Linked DNA regions of Homo sapiens: regions 1 and 3 are each linked to region 2. Evidence: fine-mapped expression QTL. A gene starts in region 2. Each other region holds a variant in brackets. All regions are shown on one strand. Distances are from middle to middle. Region 1 holds the start of LOC105374790 (a long non-coding RNA gene). Region 2 holds the start of ARHGAP25 (Rho GTPase activating protein 25). Region 3 overlaps ARHGAP25 (Rho GTPase activating protein 25).

Evidence for each region.
Region 1: its variant is fine-mapped to the expression of ARHGAP25 in whole blood (TOPMed, PIP above 0.99).
Region 3: its variant is fine-mapped to the expression of ARHGAP25 in whole blood (TOPMed, PIP 0.94).

Annotation. Positions count from the first base shown.
Region 1 is chr2:68,762,109-68,770,293 of GRCh38, forward strand. The region is part of intron 1 of ARHGAP25 (Rho GTPase activating protein 25); the gene reads left to right. LOC105374790 (a long non-coding RNA gene) reads right to left here and starts at 562. Exons shown (of 3, transcript XR_940225.3): 1 at 498-562. The variant A/G (reference allele first, on the strand shown) is at 4,250.
Region 2 is chr2:68,731,640-68,739,824 of GRCh38, forward strand. ARHGAP25 (Rho GTPase activating protein 25) reads left to right here and starts at 3,172. Exons shown (of 11, transcript NM_001007231.3): 1 at 3,172-3,621. The coding sequence starts at 3,561. RefSeq lists an enhancer at 7,937-8,166.
Region 3 is chr2:68,812,374-68,820,558 of GRCh38, forward strand. ARHGAP25 (Rho GTPase activating protein 25) reads left to right here. Exons shown (of 11, transcript NM_001007231.3): 6 at 914-1,046; 7 at 3,916-3,989; 8 at 5,500-5,621; 9 at 6,750-6,946. Among named protein-coding and RNA genes, the nearest start is that of LINC01888, 16 kb to the right of the region's middle. RefSeq lists an enhancer at 3,164-3,664. The variant CT/C (reference allele first, on the strand shown) is at 3,759.

The DNA of each region.
Region 1 (8,185 bases), 30 kb after region 2:
GCTAAGTGAAATAAGCTGCTTCAAAAAAGACAAATGCTGTATAATTCCACTTATGTGAGGTGCTTAGAGGAGACAAATTCATAGAGACAGAAAGTAGAATGGTGGTTACCAGGGCTAGGGAAAGAAGGAAAAGGAAGTTAACTCTGTAATGGGTACAGAATTTCAGTTTTTCAAGATGAAAAGAGTTCTGAAAATGGATGGTGATGGTTGTGCAATAATGTGAATGTACTTAATACTACTGAACTGTACAATCAAAAATAAGATAGTAAATTTTATGTGTGTTTTACTGGAATAAAAATAATTGGGAAAAAATAAATCACGCAAGTTATAATTTGAGAAAAATAGCCCAAGTCAAATATTACAACTCATTTTTCATCTTCAAAAGCTCTCGTATGCTATTAGATGTGCTAAGCCAGAGGGATTTGGAATTAGGACCGCATCCTGGGGTCCCGGTGTTAGCCTGTTGAGTCACCCCCTCATGGTTCTCCTTCTTTTACCTCCTGTTTGTGCATCTCTGGTTCCTGCTTCTTCAGCCTTTGCACAAAAGCTTAGTTGGTCCTTCAGTGACTACTGGCTAAAAACAAACAGAAAAAGAAAAAAGAAACAAAAATGGTGTTCTTCTAGTTCTTCCATGAGAACTGTGAAGGAGTGGCCAGCCAAAAAGAAATGTCAAGCAGAGGCTAGTGTGTGGGCCAAGAAAGTCCAGGTCAGACAGAAACACTACAGTTGCTCACAGATACATACAAAATAAGTCCTGACATTTTTGTGAGGACCTTGGGTGATAAAAGGGAAACCCCCTAACACATTTTTCAGGCAGCTGATAATGTTTGACAGCTTTGAAGAGGAAACAGAACTACCAGATGTCAGTGGCTGAATCACAGGGAAAATACTGCATTCTGCAAAGCCTTACTCAAGCATCATGAAGTGTAGCCCAAAGTTGATAGAAATGCTGATAAATAATAAAATTTTATGAAAAAGTAAAATCTCGATACTTTTTCACAAGTCACTAGCTGTAACCAAGACAATGATGTTGGCTTTTTTGTATTTGATCATCTTTCATGAATTTTAGAATGCTTTCTTTATCAAACTCTAAAAAATCTTTAACAAAATTGCAAAGTGTCACAGCAGTGAAAATTTTCATAAACTTCACAGCTCTCAATTATATGACACAGTAGAAGTATCAGAAGTATTCTGCTGTGTCATTTTCTGTTTCTTTGAAGATTCTCTGCTGTACTTCATCATTTTTCCATATACAGTTAAAACACCAAGCAAATATTTGGCCTGAATCCTAAAAATGTTTAATTCTTCCAATTTTCTGTAGTTGCATTTTCAGCAATACAGAGCGTTCCTTCAATTCTTCCCTCCCCTTTTTTCGGTTTGAGATACACTTTAACACCTAAGAATGTGATCTTCTGTTCTTTATAACTAACATTTAATATAAACTAATGTTGAATTTATCAAAAGCAAGTTCATAATCTTTGAAAACATAAGACTTTTTAAATTATTGATGGGCTAAACCATTTACTAGTTTTTTAAATATTGAAGTATTCTTGCATTCCTGGAATATTCCAGACATTTGAGTGACAAAACAGTCAAAAATCTCTAACTCTGCAGAGTTTCTGGCATGTTTCACCACATAAAAAGTGTAGAAAATTATTCTCATTTTTTCTGCAGAAACTGTTCTACTCTTCACTGTTTCCATGGTGGGTTTTTTGTGTGTATGGCAGTTATATATATTATTTAGTTTCTAATCTTTCTTTTAAAAACTTTACTGAGGTATAATTTATATGCCATAAAATTCCTTCATTGTAAGTATACAATTCAATGATTTTTAGTAAATTTATAGGGTTGTGTGATGATTACCATAGTCCAGTTTTAGGACATTTTTATTACCCCAAAAAGTTCTCTCCAGCCGTTTTGCAATCAATCCCTGCTCTCACCCTCAGTCCTGGCAACCACTGTCTCTACAGAATTGCCTTTTCTGGATATTTCTTATGCACAGACTCATATAATTTGTTGTCTTTTGCATTCAGGTTCTTTCACTTAGCTGAATGTTTTTGAGGTTCTTTGTGTGGCATGAATCAGTCCTTTGCTCCTTGGTGTTGCCAAGTAGTATTGCGCTGTTTGGCTTTCCCACATTTTGTTTATCCAGTAACCTGTTTGTGGCTTCTGGATTGTTTTCAGTTTTGACCATCATCTATAATACTGCTAGAAACATTCACATTCAAAAACTGTTATGGACGTGTGCCTTCACATCCCCTGAATAGATTCCCAGGAGTGGAATTGCTGGGTGCTATGGCAAGCTTATGTGTAACTTTTTAAGACGCATCCAGTTAAGGGGTTAAGGGAGGGTAGCTACCCTCTCTGTTGAAGGAAAGTTCATTTTCTTCTTGTTTTTCTTCTTGTGTAGCTCCAGGTTAGGTGGACAGGCACCCTCTGTTCTCACTGGTATCGTGACCTGGTTGAGGAGCCAGCAGGACAGAGCTGTTACTTTTTGTCTGGCCTGACTTTGGGCACCCAGGGTAAACTGGAAATAACATGCCCCAGCCAGACCTCTGTGCGCACTTGGAAGGAGCTCTCAGGTCTCCATCTGTTCCCTGCCTCCATGCTGCTGCTGTTCCTCTCTAGGTGTTGTTAGTGCAGGATTTTCTTGGGCCCTTTCCGCTCCCTCTGGGGCAGGCTGTTCCATATGCATTGAGTTGTGAGACCAACAGCTTTCTTCAGTTTAGCCTTGCCTATCCTACATCTTGCAGAAATCCGTCTTCCCCCCAAATGGCATGCAGATAGAATCCTTCTTTACTTTTACTTTCATTTTAGATCTCCCCTTGTTATTATTGAGCTAGTCCCTTTGTCATTTTAATGGAAATTTGGAAATGGAAGCTCTTGCCATGAGGTCACCTAGAATTCTAGGTGGTCATTCCTTCCTGAGTTCCCTCACAGACCACCCTTGGGCTCCCTCCGGTTTCTGCTGCCCTTTCTCTCTCTCTGCCAGTAAGTGTTGGGGTAAAAGCTGACTTTACAGGAAATACTATCCATACTGGCAGCCTCAGTAAGTCCCTCAGTTCTTCCCATTCATCAGCTGATAAAGTGACAGTGCAGGGATATGGAGGCGGATCTGTCTGGGAGGGAATGTGTACGTAAGTGGTATAACATCTGTGTAGTGTCATTCCGCTGTGCTCTGAGGAGTAACAGGTCTGAAATGCAGACCTTGGAAAATAGACAAGTTGAAGTTTAGAGCAATAGTTGACATGTAAAAAAAAAAAAACCCAACAAGCCTATTGAATTTATTTTTAAGCCTAATAAAATATTTAAAAAGATCATTTATTATATCAACATTCCAAACACAACAGAGAAAATATAATGAACCCCCATGTAGACCCACTACTGAAGTTCAACAGAATATTTCGTCACATTGTTTTATCTATCCCTTTCTTTTTCTTTTATTCCCTTTTATGCTAAGATATTTTAAAACAAATCCCAGACACATTTTCCCCATGCTTAAGTATGCATCCTTAAAAATATGGAAATTTTATTTTCTAGCCACATTGTCCTGATCACGCCTAACAAAACTAATCAATAATTCATTGGTATCATCTATCCTTTATCCATGATCAAATTGTCTCAGTTTTTAATGAAATCTTTTTATCAGGTTGTAGAATAGGAGAAACATATTATGACTCGTTTCCTGGGCCCACCCCACTGCTAGCATTATTCATTGGTCACTTTAACTCTCAGTAGTGTTAAAGTTTAAAATCACTGTTCCCTAAGACCTGTAGAGGCCCCAGAAACTGACTGGAGTGACGTCTGTTAGGCTGTAATGGCTTGTAGCCTCCTCAAGGGCCAGTGCTTGATGGTAGTTGCCAGTACTTGAGCATTGCCCTGGAAGGGTCCTTCCTGTGAATTACTCAGGCCATATAATTCATCCATGCTTATGCAATACAAATATTTCAAGCATCCTAATGCACTTATTTATTTATGAATGCTAGTGACTAGTGAACCAAAACCTCTTACCTAAAATAAATGACTAGCTTTGGCAATGGAGGGGTCAGTACTTCGATTGCTCTTCCTAATGTAACACACCACTAGGGTGTTGGGCAGAGCTTACTGCACTAATTATCCTGCAGTCCTACCTGATGAGAATTGTTCTTCCTTACACTAACGCCTGGGAAAGCAGGTAGCTTGCATATGCAGTTAACCAGCTACATTGTCAAAGAATTTTCTACAGAGAAAATTTGCCCTCTGATTGCCA[A/G]ATCTCCACTTTGCCTTGTGCTGAGGAAGAGGCAGCTCTGGGGCAGTGTTCTTCCGCAAGCTTCTTGTTATTACACGTGGCTTCCTGTTATGCAGAGACAGGCGGAGAGGGCTGGGTAAGGTGTTGCAACTGATGGAGACACACAGACCCACAAGAGGCAACTGCACTCTAAATTCCTAAGAAACACGAAAGCCACAAAACATGAACACTGGAGGGGTGGCCCTGGAGAGGCACCCTAGGTGAAACAAATTTGCTGGCGTGCAAAAAAACCTTGCAATATTTGTTGCTGGCTCAGGTTTCCAGAGCTGCTGATAAGAAAGAAGTAACAGAAAGCCAGTACTCCTCTCTCTCTCCCCTTCTCTCTCTCTCTCTCTCTTGTTCTCACTCTCTGTCATTCTCTCTCCCTCTCTCTTGTTCTCACTCTCTGTCATTCTCTCTCCCTCTCTCTTTTTCTCTCTCTCACACACACAGATAATTTCTCTCCCTCTGTCTCATATTGCTACCAAGACAGCATTTTTTACCTCTTCCTGCAGAACACATAGTTATTGGTGCCAAGCCCCTTTCCAAAGCAGATTCTTTTCCTTTAGGTTGACATAGTCACTTGTCAAACAATAAAGGGCATTTCTAGAATCCATAGAACATGGGAAAATGAAATCTGCCCAATTCCGGAGTATTGAGGCAGGCATTTAGGGAACAACTTTTAGATATTTCTATGAATTCGGTTATACAAATTTGTCTCAAGGGTGAGTGCCCTGGGAAGACCCGTGTGGTTTAATTTCAGGGTACAGAGAGAAGGCTCCTTTGCTGTCATCAGTCTCACAGTAAAGATGCCTTTTGAAGGGGCAGTGCTTTTCATACTAAAGTTAAAAACGAAACTCAAAAGAATGATGGGTGCTTTTCAATGGGGGGGTGGCGTTTGCTTTGAAGACAGAAAAGGGATACAGAAAGCGAGCCTGAAGTTTCTGAAGTCACATGTCCTAATTTCCTTCTGGGTGGAAACTGAGGGCCATCATCCCGCAGTCTGATAACAGGATAGGTGGGGGGTCTGCATGTATGTATGTGTGAATGTGGCAGGGGCGTTGCGTGTGTGTATGTGTGCGGGGTGTGGGCAGGGACGTATGAATCTGTTTATCATTTTCAGGTGGTAGCAATGCCAGGTCTGCTGTTTCAGAGAGCTCCCCAGTCGGCTCCTTCCTCAGCTGTGGTGTGGGCCTGACTGCCGGCCCACGGTAGCTTAGCTCACTCTCTCTCCCTCCCATGCCTCGGCCACGTGGGACCTTGCTCAGAATCCCTAGGTCTCTCCACATGAGCTTGGGTAGCAGCTGGTAAGACGTGGCAGGATTACCTAATATGTCCGTTTTCTTGTTGGGGTATCAGCACAGCCTCAGTGGTGGGCTTGAGGTTTCAGTACCATTTCTCTGTCACTGTGTTTTCGAGGCCTGCTGAGCCTTGCAGAGCATACACTGGCGGAAATAGCACAAAATTGTTTGTGCACAATCTAGAGGCAAAATGGGTGGGGCTGAGGCAGCTGCTTCACATGATAGGTTAGGAGTAGTGGCTTTGTTCCCAGCTCAGTGAAAGGTGGCATGGTCTCTCCTGTCCACTTCACTCTGGATTCTTTAACCCTGTGAATTACTAGACATGGATTCCATCTCCAATGTGGATGCCTCTCTTCACCACAAGAATACATGCTCCTTTCTGGGCTGTGGCTTAGGTATGGATATTGGGCTTTGAAATCAGATTTCTAGTTGTTAACTGGAGCAGATCATTTCACCTCTGTGAGCTTTGGTTCCTGGTCTGAAAAATGAGGGTGACAGTATGGTACTTACATAAAGAGCATGAGCATTAAATGACACAGCTCTATAAAGTGCTTGCACTGTGGCTGGCTCGTGGTAAGTACTCAATACATAAGTAACTTGATATTCATTATTGTTAGATCAGGGATTATATCTTCCATCGTCCACTCTGCTCAAGTGGATGCAGTGAACATATCCAGAAATCCCGCCAATAGGTAAATTGGCCAATATTTCTCGCAAATACAAAATGCCTGCATGGTGGCTCACATTTCGTTCTAAAACATTTATTTTATTAACTCAGCAAATATTTATCAAGATGCTTCAATTGCCAGATGCTTTTCTAGGAAGTGTGGAGCTTTACTAAAAATCCCAAGGAAAACAGCACCCTTTTCTGTCTTGCATCTCAGTTTATCCCCACAGCCTCAAGTTAGAAATGCTTCCCTCTGTGCTGGTTTCCTCTATGCCATCTTTTCTTTGGTTCCTGAACGTCTATGCAAATAACTTTTCTGGTCTGAGATTTTCACGTCACTCAAATCTTCTGGCTTTCACTTGCACCTCTTTTCTCCCCCTAGTCTCTTTCTTAATTCATAAGCCTTACTTATCAAAAGCAAAACTCTCGGGAAGCTTGAAGCTCTCAGTCCACCCTCACACTTTATCATGTCCAGAACTGGACTCACCTGCCTGTTCAAACTGGCCTTGTTCTCTGATTTCCTTTCTTGCTTCCATGAATGGGTCTCCCAGATCCATCAGGGCTGTGTCTGGCTGATCTCATATCCTCAGGACCCAAAATTGTTCTGGTGCATGTCAAGTCCTCAATCTTGAATGAATGAATGAATGAATGGGGAAGGCTACCTTACCAGAGCCACTCAAACCCCAGACCTCACAAAAATCTTTGTCTCCTGCTCCTCCTTGTTCAGCAGGGGGCTGAGTCCTCTCAGTATTAGCCTCTCATATTGTTTCCTCTTCCATCCTAATCCAGGCTTCTGGCTTTGCACCTGGAATATTGTGCAATGTCCAGCCAATCTCCCTCTATACCATCTCTCTCCCTCTTTTCATCCCTCCCCTCTGTAATATTCTCTTTCTTTTCTCTCATTTAGAATAAAATTGAGTCCATACTATAATAATAATGTTAATAATAATAGCTTTCATTTAATTTCTATGTTTTAAGAAGCAGGCACTGGCTGGGACCTGTCCACTTACCCTTACTAATCCCTATGGATTTATCACCCCATAAGATGCATGTTATTATCACAGCTTTACAGAGGAGGAAACTGGCCCTCAGAGATAGAATACGGCTTACCCAAGGCTGCGTATGTAGAAGCCTGTGCACTTCTGCTACTTTCTCCTTCCTTCTCTCTGTTAGGCACTGTGTTAGGTGCACGATACAAGGATGAGCAAGGCCAAACATCAAGGGAGTACCCCTGTCTTCTTAGAGTGCAAGTGGAGAGGGAAGACAGGAAAAGAAAAAAGTACCAAGCAAGGCGACAAAGGCTACGATACACAGGTGTCTCCACTGACAAGGGTCCAGAGCCAGGGAGCAACTAAGTCTGGCAGGGCCAGGAAGGCTTCTCACAGGAAGTGGGGCCTGAAGGGATTCTTGAAGGATAAGTAAGAGTTTTCCAAGAGGTCAAATTGGATGTAGGTGGGGGTGGGTAGGGAGGACATTCCAGCAGAGAGAATAGCATACTGTCCTGGATAAAGAGCAGGATGGGCATGGAGAAAGAGCAGGAAATGCAGCAGAAAAAGCCGCAAAGGACTCCAACTCCATGGCAGTTTAGACTTCATCGTTTAGGAGGGAGATGCTGGGGGTCATCAGAGGCTTTTAGGCAGGAAGGTAACATGATCAGAATTCTGTTTGAGAAGGCTCACGTCATAAGCAATGCTGTCAGTGCTGAATATAAGGAACAGGCAGCCTTCTGTGTTGATTGGTTGGCTGGGAGAATGTCACTCAAGTACATCAGAGAGACCAGCGGAGGTAAAGCAGGTTTGGGCATGTGTGTCAGTGTTAGCCAGAGGAATGGTAGAGGTGAGAAGGGGAAAGGTGGTAAGTTTGATGAGGTGGTAAGCATGATGAGCTTGACATTCTCATGGAGGTGTGTTAGGAAGCTGGATGGATGGGTCTACAGCTCAGAAAGGAGGG
Region 2 (8,185 bases):
CGACCTGAAGAACTTTCTTCTCTCCGTGCCTCATTCATATTGTTGGTTTTGTCTGGAATCCTTTTTCCAACCCCCTTGCCTCCCTAACTCATTTGTCAAGCCTTACTTTAAAAGACACTTCTTCCAGGAACCCTTCCTTCACTCCCCAAGTCCAGTTAGGCCCCTCGCATATACACCCCCCCTAGCTCCCTACACTTTCCCCAACATAGCTCTCTCACACTGTATTTAATCGTTCACTTAATTGTTCTTCTCCCCCAACAGACTGTAAGAGACAACAGCCGGTGTCAGGGCGGTGAGGTGGGGAAGCAGAAAACACGTCTGCTTGTTCACGAACGTTCTTCCAATGTCCAGCAAAAATTTGGTCCTTAATAAATCCGCTTATCATTCAACAAGCCAACAGATGGAACAATGTTTGCTTGCGCTACTGCAGATGCTAATTCAAACTTTGGGACCAGGCAAGGCATTTGGCTCTTCATTTTATGAAGATCAGAGAGAGGGAGCGCAGTACCCAGTTGACTGACCGAGAGAGAGCTCTGTGGTGGGGGAAGGCTGCTGTGTTGGGCCCTTGTGGGGAGTGTGCTTTCCATCTGATTGCCTTTCCGCATCTGCACAACTAACTTCCCCCATGGGTCACGAGTTTTTCCAAGACTGACAGGAACCTACCCTGAAAAGTAAAGGAAGTTCCCTGCGTGTTTCTTAATGACACCTTCAAAATATTTTCAACATTCCTCAGTTTAAAGGTCCCAGGACTGAAATTTTAGATGGTGTCGAATTCCCCCGTGGAGATGCTGCTGGGCCGGGCCAGACAGCTACCTCTCTCACACCCGCTTAATTAAGTTGGGATACGAAAAAGAGCAGTGGTGTTTGGGTCAGGCAGGCAGTAGTGCAATGTCTCCAAGTAGCTGAGTCAAGTTCAGCGGAATCCAGCTCCCTGGGGAGGCTGGAGGGTAGCTGGGTAGACTGGGTGAGTGTGGTGGATTGGAGTCTTGATCAGCAAACACTCCGGCCCTTCTTCCACCCCTCCGGCCCTTCTCCCTCCCCACTGCTGCTGAGGACTGGGTGTACTTCCGGCCTCACTGACTTTGAGCTTGGCCATGTGACCTGTGTTGGCCAATGGAATGTGAGCAGACAGGGTGTGCGCAGAGGCGTTAAATGCGCTTGCAAGGTTCTTCTCTCTTGTGCTCCTTTCATTCCTGAAGACAGGAGTATACACCAGGTCACCACTGTTCCTTCAGCCTCGTTCTCTGGATATACAGTTTGGATACATTTAGTTTGAGATGGCTACTATAGATCTAAGCAGAGATCCATGTGATTTGGAGTTCAGGGGGTCTGGGCTGGAAATACACATTGGAATCATCTGCAAATATGTGACATTTAAAGCCTTGAGACAGATGAGCTCACCAAGGTGTGAGTGTGGATGGAAAAAGAGTCCAGTCGAGTCTTGGTTTCCTTCAATATTTAGAGGTCAGAGAGATGAGAAGGAATCAGCAAGAAAACAGACACGGAAAAGCCAGAAAGGCAGGCAGACAGCCAGGCCAACCATGGGCCGTGGGAGCCCCATGGACAGAGGGCTCAGAGTTGGAGAGAGCTATCAAATGTGTCCGACACTGCTGATGGGCCCGTGAGATGAAGATGAAGCCCTGACCTGTGAGTTTAGTGACAGGGAAGTCGTAGGTATCCTTGATGAGAATATATTTTGTGGAGTCATAGGGGCAAAAACATCAACCAAGGGATTCGGGAGAGAATAAGAGGAGAGATATTTGCAAGTTAGACAATTCTTACTAAAGCTTGGTTCAGAAATGAAGGAGAGAAATGGGACTCTAGCCCAAGGGGGTGGTGGCATCCAGAGAGATTTTTTATGGGATAAAAAATAGTAAGTTTGAACGCTGACAGGAAGGATCAAAGAGAGAGAAGAAATTGATGATGCAATAGGGATGGGAGAGTGTTAACAGCCAGTTCACCCATTGTACCAAGAATAAGGTCAGGGATACAGCTTGCATGCAGGTAGGTGAGCAGATAGAGTGAGGGAAGCTTGTGGACATTCTCTTTCAGTTACATTGATTTTCTCAATGAAACGGGAACCCAGGTCGTCAGTAAGAGTAAGCAAGTGGCAGGTGAAGAAGAAAGTATGACAGAGTCATCTAGGAGAGTTGGAGAATGAATGGAGCAAGGCGTGCAGCTTAGATGCTGGCTAGCAGTGACTGTTCTGAGCACTTTGTACTGGCTTTTCTACTAAAGCCTCACAACAGCCTATGAAGTAAGCCCTATTATTTGCCCCATCTACAGATAAGAATTGAAGCACAAAGTGGTCAAGAAACTTGTCCATAGTCCCACAGCAGGAAAGCCAGGATTTGACTACCAGTGATCTGTTTCCAGGGCCCAAATGCTTAAGCACTAGGTTAGGCTGACCCAGTTAAACATGAAAGCTTGTCACAGAACTGAACTAAATAGAATAGAATAAAGGTTGAATTAATGTGTGTGGTGCAACCACTCTGTGTCAAGCTCTGCACTAGATTCCTCTGCAAAAACCCTTTGAGTTGTGGTTATTATCAACCCCATTTTACTGATGAGGACATTAAGGTCTGGAAAGATTCAGTTGCTTGTTCAAAAGTTGAAGAGCTAGCAAATGGAAGCCCACACCATGTATACAGCCCACACACCCTGATTCTAAAGCCCACACCCTGTGTACAATGCCAAAGAACCCTTAGGATATGTGAGTGGGTCGACCTAGCTTAAGTTGCTTCATTAAGCCAAATACATCAAAACCCTCCCTACATCAGGCTGAGATCACTTGCAAACTTTATCCTGAGCACCTGGAGAGCTTGCGACATGGTCCTTACAGCAGGAAGAATTTAAAAGAAGATAACTTTGGGGGAATGCTTGTTGTTTTTCTGACCATTTTTGGATGCTTGATCCGTTAGGTGAGGAAGAGGAGAGCTTAGAGTTGAAGTAGATGATGGGAGTTTCGACATTTTCTTCTAATTAAAACTGTAATCTTTTATAACAGAAGCAACCATTCTGGTTTTTCAAGCATTTCCAAAAACCATTTTCTCAAGAAAGAGTGCTCATAATGTATCATCTTCACTGAACAGCCACCCACTTCCTCAAATGCAAGGAAGCAGACAGTTAAAAAAGAAACACACACACACACACACAAAACCAAGAGGCAGCAGTTGTTTATCACGACCTCAACTCAGTAAGGCCTGAGATTCTTTCGAAAAGGAGCTTTGCTTCCCATGACGCAGAGGGAAGTGTCAACTGGGATATTTCTGGTAAAACTGAAAGCAAGAAAAGCAGGGTGCTAGCCCCTGTGGGACTGAGGGTGGAGGCTGGGGGAGTTTGGGTGCCATCCTCCAGTGACAGATGGATGGACCTTTCATCTAAGAGAAAGGAGGAGACACGTTGGCAAATCAGCCTCAAGCCTAAGATTGCTTGTGAAGCAATCATAAGGAGGAACAAAAACAGACACAAAAACAGAGGGAAAGAGTGAAAAGACAAGAAGGGCGCAAACTGTGACAGACTCACCGCTTCACTAACTACTCACTTAAACTGGAAGCAAAATGTCCCTAAAATTGCCAAGGAACTGGGATTTCAACCTGAAAGTGGAGGCTGCGAAAATAGGTATGGTTGGTGTCTTTTCGTTGCCTCTGTGATTCTTACGTATACTCGAGCACCATTTGCATGTTGGTCTGCAGGGAGCATAGTCTACTTAAAAATGGATCTCGCAGCAAATCTGAGTTTGAGGGACCATTTGCATTTAAGTTGGCATGCCAGGTCCAAGTTCTAAAATGCTGGGAGGGGGTTCTCTTTCATTTGGACAAAACAGTGGGATGGCACTCCTTGGTGTGCAGGATCTGGGGTACTTCGGATGATTTAAGGCTACAGACTACACACAAAACTGTGAGTTTTTAGCATATTCCATTTCCTTCCTGTTTGGAAACTCATCCATATTTTGAATGGTTCTGAACAGGAGCACAAAGACTAGAGTCTTTTGAAGTGCTCAATCTGTAAGTAAATTCAATGGGTGTTCTGTTTTGTGAGCCCAGGAGTCAAGGTGTATTAAAAGGTAGTAGCAAAAGGTAGACAACAAAAACAAGACAGGAACATAAAAACGTACTAAAGTATAATAAAGACCTTACTTAATAAAAATATAATTAAAGGAACAGAATGGGAGGGAATTCTTAGATGAGTTGGAAAAGAGATGTATTTTTTATTATTTTAAGGGAGACTGGCATATTTTCTGAGATAGTCTGGCCTTTAATCCATACCCTGTCCTTCTAATGATGATAGTGATACATTAAGTTTAATCTATATATTCGTTATGAAGTTCTTTACATAGATTTCTTCTATTGCTAAATTGGTCACAGTAATTCACATCAGAGCAATCGGGCTGAAAACTATTGCCTACATTTATGTATCTCACCCATACATGAGATAACTTCCTTGATATTAGATATAGATAAGTATTAAGGTGTTTCTAACAGCTTGGAGGAATTTTGCTTGGAAAAAGGTTTAGATTTGAACCTCTAATGGGGTTAAGTGTGCTACTAAAATAAGTGCTCCATTGAAAAGTCACAAGCGGAGCATTAATGATGTAGGTCTGAGAAAGGGTTTGAAAGAAAACAGAGTAATCAGAGAAGCCATTTATCTTGATAACTAGGGGAGATTAGCGTTCCCTAATCAAGCTGTGAATGATTGTATGCTGAGGTCAGTTCAGAGAAAAGGTAATGTTCATACCTCTTACAAAAGCAAGAGATTTTCCTCCTAACTATCATTGATACAAATGTACTTGGCTAATGCTCAATCTATGTCATACAAATTATATGGTTCTGTTCCTTTGAAAGTGTCCTGCTTCTACATAAATAAGGTCATTCTGCCTTCTCTCCACCTATGTTTGAACACAGGTTATTAGGGTCTTACTCTCCTTTGGTTTAAAAAACAAGAAAGTTGAGACAATTAATAGTTAAATGATTTTTTTCACAGATATAGGAAATTACCACACTAGAGCTCAAGACTGCATATACTCAGGTCTGGGATTTGATTGAGTGAATTTCATGATTTTTACCAATGTTTCTTAAAGCATGGTCCCATAGATAACCTATATCAGACTCACATCAAGTGCTGGCTAAAAATGCAGATTTCTGGGCACCATCCTTACAAAATCAGAATCTCTGGAGGAAGGCCCAGGATCCTGCATTTTGACAAGCACCCCCCACTTTCATCCTCACCTGAGGAAGAATTCCTGCTGTAGGTACTGTGGTCTATGTTCACTAGCCCCAGCAGACAGTTTTCACCCATTTAGTATAGGGCACAGTGCTTGTTCTTAACTGGGCACACAATAAATATTTGTTGGCTGAATGAATGCTTCAGCCAACAAAAACAAGCAGATGATGTTATTTAGTATTACTTAATGAAAAAATAATAATAAGGACATAATGAAATACAGAGGAGCCCTTGTCATTATCCATGCTATCTATAAGTTTGTCACCCTGAAGGACTGGACTACAGTAGGATGCATTTATAAGTGTCACATGAACTAGAATTCAGATCATAATCTGAGTCCTCTGATGGGGGAGAGCCCTTGACTCAGTCACAGGACTTCCAGTCCCCTCTCCAGCATCCTGTGTCCAGGTGTAACTGTAGGAACTGGCTTACCAATATATCAAAGAAACTTACCTCTATTGGGAAGACCTGTGGAACTGGGAGTTATGTCAGGAAAGCTGACAATCTGTGGTTTTAACGTTTTCTCAACCTAGATACCATTGACATTTGGGGTTGGATAGTTTTTTGTTGTGGGGCCTGTCCTGTGAATTATAGGATGTTTAGCAGAATCCTTGGCCTCTACCTTCTAGGTGATGGTAACACCCCCCTACCACTACCAGTTGTGACAAATAAAACTGTCTTTACATATAGCCAAGTGTTCCTTGGGGATGGGGGTGAGGGTAATATCTTCTCTAATTGAGAACTCCTGGAGTAGATGATCACCAAAAGGGTGGAATATAAGGTCATTTGGGACTAGAACCCAAATATTAACTCATGATTCACTCTGTAGCTCAATTTTTTGGAGGCTTTTATTGAGATCTGTCCTCAGGGAGCCAGGCCATAGCTTAGGAAGGACACTAGAATGGGCCCTTGGTGAAATAGCAAGACACTGACCCAGAATGTGACCCAGGAAAGGGGCCCTAGCTTTTTTTGATGAGCTATGCTTCCAGTTTCCCCAGAATCTTGTGAGCTGGAGTGAAAGTGAAAGTCTCTGAGAGCGAGGGGAGGGACTCTCCACTGTACTTCCATCTCAGAGCTGAAGAGGGTCTTGCTGGATGGCAGACTCACCTGAGTCCACTACCATGAGTCTGACAGATTTTCATGCAGTGATGAAGAAAAGTCACAGAACTTCCTGAATCTGACCTATTGATCCTGGCAGGAATAGGGGTTGGAAGAAAAAGGAAAATGCAGAACAAACAGTCTTGACTTGAGGTGGAGCCAAGAGCACACACTTCTTCCTGTGATCCTTTATCATTTTCAATTTTAGAATCATGACAGCCTTTCACTGCCTTCACGCAGTTACTCAAATATTTTGCCTTTTTAACTGAATTGTCATCACTGGAGGACAGGTCCAGACTTTCTGGACCTCCAGCCCCAGGTTACAGGGCTTTCTTGAAAGAGTTACATGGCTTCCCAATGACCAGGCCAGTCTACTTGAGCACATTTTGTACCTTATTTGAACACTGAAATGCTGGTTCCCCAGTTTCAGGAGAATCCTGAAACTATATAGCCCATGGTGAACTGATTTGTGTTTGTTTGATGTTCAGCTTTCTGAACATCAGAAAGTGGTGAGTGCTTTCTTTACAATTCATTACCAAACTTACTATATGCTAACCAGACCAGCCTGGGTTATGGACTGAATGTGGTCTGTTTGCTGTGCCCAAAGTATTTGCTTTCCATGAGTAGCCTCCGGTCCCTGATAGATAAAGGTCCCCGATAGATAAAGGTCCCCACACATGCAAGTAGAGTCACTGCTAAAAATACAAAAAATTAGCTGGGCATGGTGGCGGGCACCTGTAATCCCAGCTACTTGGGAGGCTGAGGCAGGATAATTGCTTGAATCCGGGAGGCGGAGGTTGTAGTGAGCCACGATCATGCCACTGCACTCCAGCTTGGGCGACAGAGCAAGACTCTGTCTCAAGAAAAAAAAAAAAAAAAGAATATGAACATGGCCTTCTGTAGACAGTGAACAGCTACACAAGGGAGCTGTTCCTTCCAGGGCCCACTCTATTTTTATGCAGAGGTTACATTGCCATTGGTTATTTAAGTAAAAATGTCTGTCCGTAATGTTGCTGTTGACTTAACATTTAGGCATAAATTAAATTCTCTCCACGAAGTGCATGCTTCCTGTTGCCCAGGCCAACAGCCTTCTGGCCATTTGAGGAAAAAGGACTGATGTCACCTCTGGGCCTTCTGCAGCAGCAGCAGAGTGGGGACCAACCTAAGTGGTGATGGGAAAACAGGACCTGGTTTTATATCCACTCATGCACAAAATTCCCCCTGTACATGCCAGATGAGGTCAGCTTAGATTCTGTACTTTGTCTGAGACTGTGCACTTGGATTGGCAGAGGCTAGCTTGATGGTTCTTATTGCCTATGTGTCTGAAACTAGGCCAGGGTTAAGATGCCCAATGGCCCTGGCGTGGGTATACATCACTATAAGTCACTTCATTAATGGTAGTGCTGCCATCTCCCTGTCTCTCACCTCACAGTTATGAAGCATCTTCATGTAGCATCCAATGGGAGAACTCTGTGGAGACTCCACCAGCTGGAATGTGATCCTTTTGAGTAAGGCCCACTATGGGGGTGTTGGAAAGATGCTGGGACCAATTGAGAGAAGTAAGTTGATGAAAATGGTCCTATCACACACAAGGCAGCTTGAGGAAAGAATCTGGCATGAAGGTGCACCCCAGTCGAGTGGTCTGAACTTGTGTTAAGATACAAGACATGGGAGGGAGTGAAGAGCAGAAGCAAAGTCCCACTGGTGGCCACAGCAATTGAGACCAAATAGTACCGGAAGAGCATGACGGAGAGCCACAGCGAGGCACAGGCAGATTGTGGGGATTCTGTCACAGAGGATGGCATGGAAATTTTGTAGAGTCCCCAGACAGGAACTGAGATACAAAAGTTACAAAGAGAGAAAA
Region 3 (8,185 bases), 81 kb after region 2:
AGCCCTCCTGTAAATGGAGAAGCTGAACTGAACAGCCGTGCCTCTTTCAGTCAATCAGGCCCACGGGGAGGCGTCCTCTCCTCATGCTCCAGGCTGACACACATGCTGCCTGCCTCATGCCCTAACTCCTCACCGCCTTTCAGAGTTCATCTGAGGTACTCTTTCATCTGACAAGTCACCTATGTGTTCCCATCTCTGCCTTGGGTGTTCTTTTTCCATACTTCCATAGGATCCTGGGTCCTGGGCTTCCCATATCATGGCATTAGCCGCACAGTATTGTAAGGACATTTTAATACTTGAGTCCCCAGAGTTCTGTGGCTCGATGGGGCCAGGGCTCCATCCCTGGATTGGATGGCTACTGATGTCCCTTGGATTGGCTACTGAAATCCCAGTGCTTGACAAGTATCTTGCAGTATCTTGCACCTAATAGGTTTTCTTGATGCTTATTGATTGAGTGAATTATTGAGTAAATACGTGAGTGAACCTCAGAACTATTTTAAGCACTCTGGAAGATTAAAGAGAAGAATGGACCAAGGATATAAAGGAGTTAACACAAGCAATATTAGAGACTAATTAGACAATGCTAATTGTGAGGCACTAAATGACTTGAAGAAAGAAGAAAGCAATAAAGACGAAAATCATTAAGGAACGTTTAGTAAAAATGTAGACCTTGAACTTACCTTTGAGGTAGTTGGGTGGAAGAGACAGAGGAACATTTATTCAAGAATGTTGTTCCAGAAGGGCGAATTAACAAAAATGTTTTGGTCTGATTCTTCTTTATCAGACTACTCCTCTGCAAAATTTCCCTTTGTAATTTATGGTTCTATTCACTGAATCATCAGAATGGAAGAGAGGAACATCCTAAAGTTTTTCTTTCAAAGAGTTTCACAGAGCGTTGCTTATTTTCTTCCAGAGACACAGATGTGCACACTGTGGCTTCCCTGTTAAAGCTCTACCTCCGAGACCTCCCAGAGCCCGTGGTTCCCTGGAGCCAGTACGAAGGGTTCCTGCTCTGTGGGCAGCTCACGAATGCGGATGAGGCAAAGGTTTGCATCTTAGAGTTAGTTGTCCTGCCTTAGAAGAAAGTGATTGGTTTTCTGGACACTAATCCAGTAGGCAACAGTGGGTCAAGGGGCCTGTACTTTTTGGTAAGATAGTCAAATGCAACTTCCTCAGCAACAAAAGGTATATGAACTCAATCATAATGACTGGCAAACCACAGCCTTCATGAGATGCAATAATCCAATAAAGAATTGGACCATAATCAAATACTGCTAGATCACATTAAAAGTAGTGAGAAAAGGAGGATACATCGGAGGACGGTTTCAAGCATGATGGCCTTGCTGAGACTTGCTGGGACACAAGGACAGGCTGGAAGGCAGGTGTGAGGTCACATAGCTCAAGCTCTACAGCAGCTGTGAGTGTCAGGCGTGGTCATCCAAGGAATGCATGTGCCAGGGAGAAGAAGGACAGGGAGGGTTTTTTGATTGTTTTTCTTTTCAGCCACAGCTGCCTGTAGGGTCTGTAACCACCATCTGCAATATGCTTGTGAGAGTGCACAAGTTCACTAACAAGATTTTTGATCCTGTATAAATTTATTTCTAGAGAGGCCTTATAGTCAACAATGACCACACTGTAGTCATGTTATTATAATCAACCAACCAACCAAACAACCAAAGAAACTGATGAAACCCAACCAACAACAATAAACCTTGATGATTTTTAAACAAGATTTTCAAATCCAAGTGATCCATGAAGAAGTTGATGTTTATATCGACTATGTTAAAAGCCCTCTCTGGCAAAATGGTGCACAGAAAAATCTATAATGAGACCTAGATTTAACCTTGATTTTGCCATTAGACAAATTATGCATCTTTTATAAGACTCAGTTTATTTACTTAGACCAATAGAACTTTCTATGGTAATGGAACTTTTATATATCTGCACCGTTCAATATGGTGACCACCAGCCACACATGGCTATTGGGCATCTAAAATGTGGCTAGTGCACCTGGGAAGCCAAATTCCTAATTTTATTTAATTTTGATTTAGTTAAATTTAAGTAGTTACATGTGGCAAGTAACTGCTATATTAGACACCACAAACTTAGATAATTTTCATAGTAATATCAGCCATGCCTAGGATTGTTTTGAGGACCCAGGGATATGATACTGGTGGGTGACTTTAAAATTTTTTTCAATATAAGGGAAGGTTTATTATCTTCCACACTTCAAAATTTATTAGATAGTCTGCTTCATAGAATATATTTATTTAAAACGAATGAAGAAATAGCACCCTAGCCCTGCAAGAAAACACAGCTGTGAGAACTTCCATCCCTGACTAAGGGTGGGGAGAGCATCATGATTTGAATAGATCCTGACATAAGAGAAAAGCTGACTTTATATTTCAAAATTAAGAAAGGAAGAGAACATGATACAGGTTTTGTAGCTCTTTTCCAAACAAAAATTAGATTGCATGGATCTGAGGTACGATATTTTGTGCGTAACTTAAGAATTTTATTGGGGGAGGGAGAAAGGGATATGAAAAGTCTTAACTTATACTGGTATATCTGCTCACCATTGTGAAAGTAATAAAATTTTATGGAATAAGGTTTAAAAGGCAGCTAAAAAGATAAACGTTTCAGATCGCATCTCACCCCTGGGTTCTGGGGAAAGTAAAGGAGGCAGCTAGATGCTGTTCTGACAATAAGATTCCCACCCCTGCACTCACTTTAGACTTGCTTCTCCCAGCTTTCTTAATCTCAGCATCTTTGAGAGTTTCCACATCTGTGGCAATGCATGTCTACACACAGGGACCAAGGTCCTTCTCACTGGTGAAAACATGGCAGAGGTGGCAGCTAGGAGGGGTGAGTCTGTAGCAACCTTTGCAATGAATTTACTCGACTCAACTGAAGAAGGGATCTCAGCATGAAGCTGATGCTACGCTAAGAAGGTCTATATCTACGGAAGCTGCTGCGTGTAGGCTGACAAGGCTGGAGGGTGCGTTTTCTGCAGGAGAGCTGCTCAGGTTTGAGGAGTGCCTGCACACCGGCATGTGAATTGTGTACTCTCTTTTTTTTTTTTTTTTTTTTTTTTTGAGATGGAGTTTGGCTCTTTCGCCCAGGCTGGAGTGCAGTGGCGCGATCTCAGCTCACTGCAATCTCCGCCTTCCGGTTTCAAGCGATTCTTCTGCCTCAGCCTCCCGAGTAGCTGGGGTTACAGCCGTCCGCCACCACGCCCGGCTAGTGAATTGTGTACTCTCACAAGCACCATGTTGCAGATGGTGATTACAGACCCTACAGGCAGCTGTGGTTGAAAAGAACACGGAAAAGCTCGCTGTCCCTCTTCTCTCCAGCACATGCATTCCTAGTAGACCTTGCCTGACATCCACGGCCATCCATTGCAGAGCTTGAACAGTCTGACCTTGCACCGTCCTCCAGCGTGGTCTGCCTGTCTCTGTGTCCCGGCATGTCTCAGATAGGCCACAGTGCTTGAAATCCTTCTCAGAAGAATCCTCCTTTTCTCACCAGTCTTAAAGTGATTCTGAGATATCTTATTGTGGTCTTATTCTTTATTGGATTGTTACCTCTCAAGCATTCATTCAGCAAACAATTAACGTATGAGTTGTTAAACAGTCCTTCCTTAGAGTAGCTCAGGGTCAAGGGTGGGGTGCAGTGGCATAATTACATATAAATAAAAGTATACATAACAAAAACTATGACCCTTTTAAAAAAAATTCTGTGAGAATTGAGTTATTTCC[CT/C]TTTTTTTTTTAAACCCACAGAACTACAGGAACAGGAATGACTGCCAAAGTGTTGTTTCTGCACAGATACACCAATTCTGTCCCAGGGTCTCCTTGCTGGCACATGGGCAGGCTCATTTACTGGTAAATGATTTACTTGTGTAAATCTCTTCCCAGGCTCAGCAGGAGTTGATGAAGCAGCTCTCCATCCTTCCTCGTGACAACTATAGTCTCCTGAGCTACATCTGCAGGTGAGAGGCCCCTGGTATCAACTCTGCAGTTTTCAACCCCATCAGAAAGAAGCTCCTAGTTAGAAGAGGAGGGACCACGTCTGTGAACAGAGAGATTCTGGTCTAGCACTTTGGAAGATCAGCTGTATTCACATAGCACTGAAGTAGCTTCCTGTATAATTTCAAGGATTCTGAAAACCTGGTTGAACCAAAAAATGAACGTGCTCCCCCATTTAGGCCTGCCTCAGCACTGCCCAGAGTCCTGGTACATGCAAGAGAACCCAGAATCCTTATAATGTTTCTAGAATGATCTCCCATCTTTGTGATTCTGAGCCGTAGCTTAGCTCCAGGGAGACATTCATTCTGGGCCACCCTGGTTATTTTCCTTCAGCCCTTTCTGGGGACCTGCTGTGCGCCACCCCTGTGGCAACTCTAGCTGTGGATTGACCCAGATCTGGCTCGGCTGGGAACTGGGATCTTCATCCCAGACTGACCTGAATTTTGTCTTTTATTTTTTAAAAATAATTTGTTGTAGTTCCTAGATTATAAAAGTCATGCTTGCTTGACTTGGAAACCAGGAAGATATAGCAAACAGTAAATGAGAAATAAAAAGGACCCACAATCCCTTCACCAGCAACAAGCACTATTAACACTTTGGCATTTTTCCTTCTGGGTGTTTTCTCTCTGTGATAAATCTTTACATACCTTAATGTAAATATAGGGGAATAATATTTTATACTAAATCAAAATTATATAAAGGATTGTGTCCTTTTTTTTGGTTTAATGTTTTATTATGAGCATTTCCCTATGTCATAAAATTGGATTATAAATAACTTCATAATATTTCATAATGTTTCATCATTTGGACACGTCACCAATATTTAATAATTGCTCTGTATTTGAAATTGTGTTGCTTCATTCTATCCATTTTTAAATGGTTCTTTGAGAGAGTATTTAGAAATTCCCTGTTTTTACAGTGAATCTGAGAGCTTTGTGCCTCAAAGGGGTAGAATTTTAACAAAAATTCAGTATTAGTTATGGAGAACCTGCTGAGAATTAGCAATGCTTGTGCTCTAATCAGAGGATGAGAGCAAGGAGGCACCATGGATTCCCCAGGCCTGAGATCTTCTTACCAATAAAGTTTTCCTCTCTGGAGACTTGGGTGGGATGAGTGCTGAGAGCTGGGAGATAAGCCTATCAAGGCAGACATGGGTATGGGCAGATACCCATTTTACCTTTTCTAGTCCAGTCTGAGCTCCTGGAAGTGGATCTTGCCTCCTGCTTATGTGATTCCATTCACCTCCCCATCCCCCACCCCAGCAGCTGGGCAGGACCCTCCTGATTTCTCTTCCTTCCTTGGTCTTGGGTCTTTCAGGATGAGGCTAAATTCTTGTGGGCAGAGCAGGCTGGTCTCATTCCTGAGTCTGGGAGGAAAGCATTGGATCCATCCCTGAGTTCTCATTGGAACCCTGTAGTGCTTCCTCCTGGCTACTTCCTGCTTTCTACCATGGGATTTCTTGGCTGTCTGTAGGTTCCTACATGAAATACAGCTGAACTGTGCTGTTAACAAGATGAGTGTGGACAACCTGGCTACTGTGATTGGTGTGAATCTCATCAGGTCGAAGGTCGAAGACCCTGCCGTGATCATGAGAGGTATGGCTGGTCCCGTAGTGAAAGCAGGTACCCAGGAAATAACAATTACAACATTCCCCCTGATATTTGTGCACTGCTCTGTAGTTTCCCAAGCATTTTAAGCTGGTTATCAATCTCATCTGAATCATGCAATAGCCTTGTGAGGTAGGCAGGGCAGGAATTGTGTCCATTTTTCAGATCACAACAAAGGACAGAGGTCAAGGGTTTGCCCAATGGTCCCACAGTGCAGTAGACTAGTACAATAATAGCTAGCTAGTGTTTGTCAGTCTTTTATTACTTTTAAATACCCTTAGCCAGATTGAGCAAGCAGGTTTCATTTTATTTTATTTTATTTTTATTTAGGTATTTATTGAGTTGGAGCCTCACTCTGTTGCCTAGGCTGGAGTGCAGTGGTGCAAACTTAGCTCACTGTAATCTCTGCCTCCAGGGTTCAAGTGATTCTCCTGCCTCAGCCTCCCAAGTAGCTGGGACTACAGGCATAAACCCCCACACCCAGATAATTTTTGTAATTTTAGTAGAGACAGGGTTTTACCATGTTGGCCAGGCTGGTCTCGAACTCCTGACCTCAAGTGATCTTCCCACCTCGGCCTCCCAAAGTGCTGGGATTACAGGCGTGAGCCGCTGTGCCCAGCCAGCTTTCATTTTACAAGCCAGCCCACAAAAAGGCTGCTTAAAAAGCTGTGCTGTGCAGGCTTCTGAGGCTGTGTCCTGACACAGAGTACTGATATCTGCCATGGGCATGGGGGCAGAAAGCCTGGCACATATTTGCTCTGTGTCTGATAAGAAACCAGATATCATATTGAGGACCACATCAGGAGAGAAAGATATCTTCATTTTCTCTGCTGTTTTATTGCCTACTTTCCTGATCAAAAACTAATCCAGTGGACTATTGGCTCCCTCTGAAACAGCTCCCTCTTTTATTCTACTCCCGTGTCCTTCTGTTCCATCCCTTTCAACATAATCTCCAACTCCAAGCAATTAAAAAGGGTCTTTTGAGAAGCAAAATGAGGCCCTTCTGGGCCCTATAGTTTTAGAACCGAGTTTGGAGACATCCACGGGTGGGGATCCTTGAGGACTGACTACCTGCCTCCTACACTACACAACAGATCTTTTTCTTCTGTCTTTCAGGGACTCCTCAGATCCAAAGAGTGATGACTATGATGATCAGAGACCATGAAGTCCTCTTCCCCAAGTCCAAGGATATACCCCTGTCACCCCCTGCCCAGAAAAATGACCCCAAGAAAGCTCCAGTGGCCCGAAGCTCTGTAGGCTGGGATGCCACTGAAGACCTCCGAATTTCTAGGACAGACAGCTTCAGTAGCATGGTAAGGTGCAGAGAACCTTCCTGCTTCCATTGGGTTCTTCCTTTAGTCCAGGCCATCCCATGTAAGGCCTGCTCTCGGGTGGCAATTTGGGGAGTTTTAGGTGATGCAGTGGCAGTGGGCGCTGCTGCTACAGACTCATCTGAACACACCTTGAAAGCCTGGCCTCTTTCCAAATCTAGTTTCTATTGGCATCTTTGAGGGGGGTGAGTGACAAGTGTGCCAATCACCCAGTGACTGAGCAATGAGGTCCTCACTGAAGCCCACTCTGAAAGAGAGACTCAAATACAGTCCAGAGAAGTTCAGTGGGAAAAATGTATACAACATTGTAAATGTTTTGGTCAGAATTGTTGAAAATTCTGGGTGAACGTCCAGAGAAAACTGGTTTCCTGCTAACCCATGAAACGTGATTCCTTTCTCAGAGTATGTGATGTGTTTGTGTAATATTTCTCATTCCTCGATAAGCCGTCTCAGCCATGTCAGCCCCCACATTTGTGCTGAAGGGTTGAAACTCACGTTCCCAATGTCCAAAAGCTCTGCTGACTCTGAAATGTAGACCTCGTGAGGACAATAATTTACAAAGGTCAAATATTTTTATATATTTATAGGAACAAATATTTTTACAAAGAACATGTGAACTTTATATAGTAGCTTGATCTTTATGTGTGGCCAAAAAATGGATTTCAAATTTCTAGTTGACCAGATGATTCAAGTTACCTACAGTACTGTTAGCCCTGAAGATTGTTTTTAAAAGGCAGGTAGTGGGTAGTGGTTGTAGTTTTTCTTAGGATAGGTCTTTCTGAAGGCAATGCATTCTACTAACACTCTAAAACTAAAATAAAATTTAAAAATGCTCATACTTCATGTAACAAGATCATCCCACAGTCCTTGAGAATAGCTATTATTTTACTCATTTAATAGGTTTCTGCCATTTACTGATTTCTGTGGGCAGGCACTATGCTGGGAAATTTACACTGATCACCTCTAGAGTCCTCATATTACATAACATTGTAGGGCAGAATTTATCATTCGTATTGTGTTATTGAGGAGCAGAAACTCAGAGAGGTTGAGCAGCTGGCCCAATGTAGTAGCACTAGCTTGTTATAGAGGAGGACTCAGATCCAGTCCTCCCTTCAGAACCCAGGTACCTCTAACTCCGGGTGGGGTTTCTGAAGCAAGCAATTGGCTGCAAAGGTTAAAGGGAGGGCTCGAACCTGATTGTCTGATTTTATGTTTAGGTCT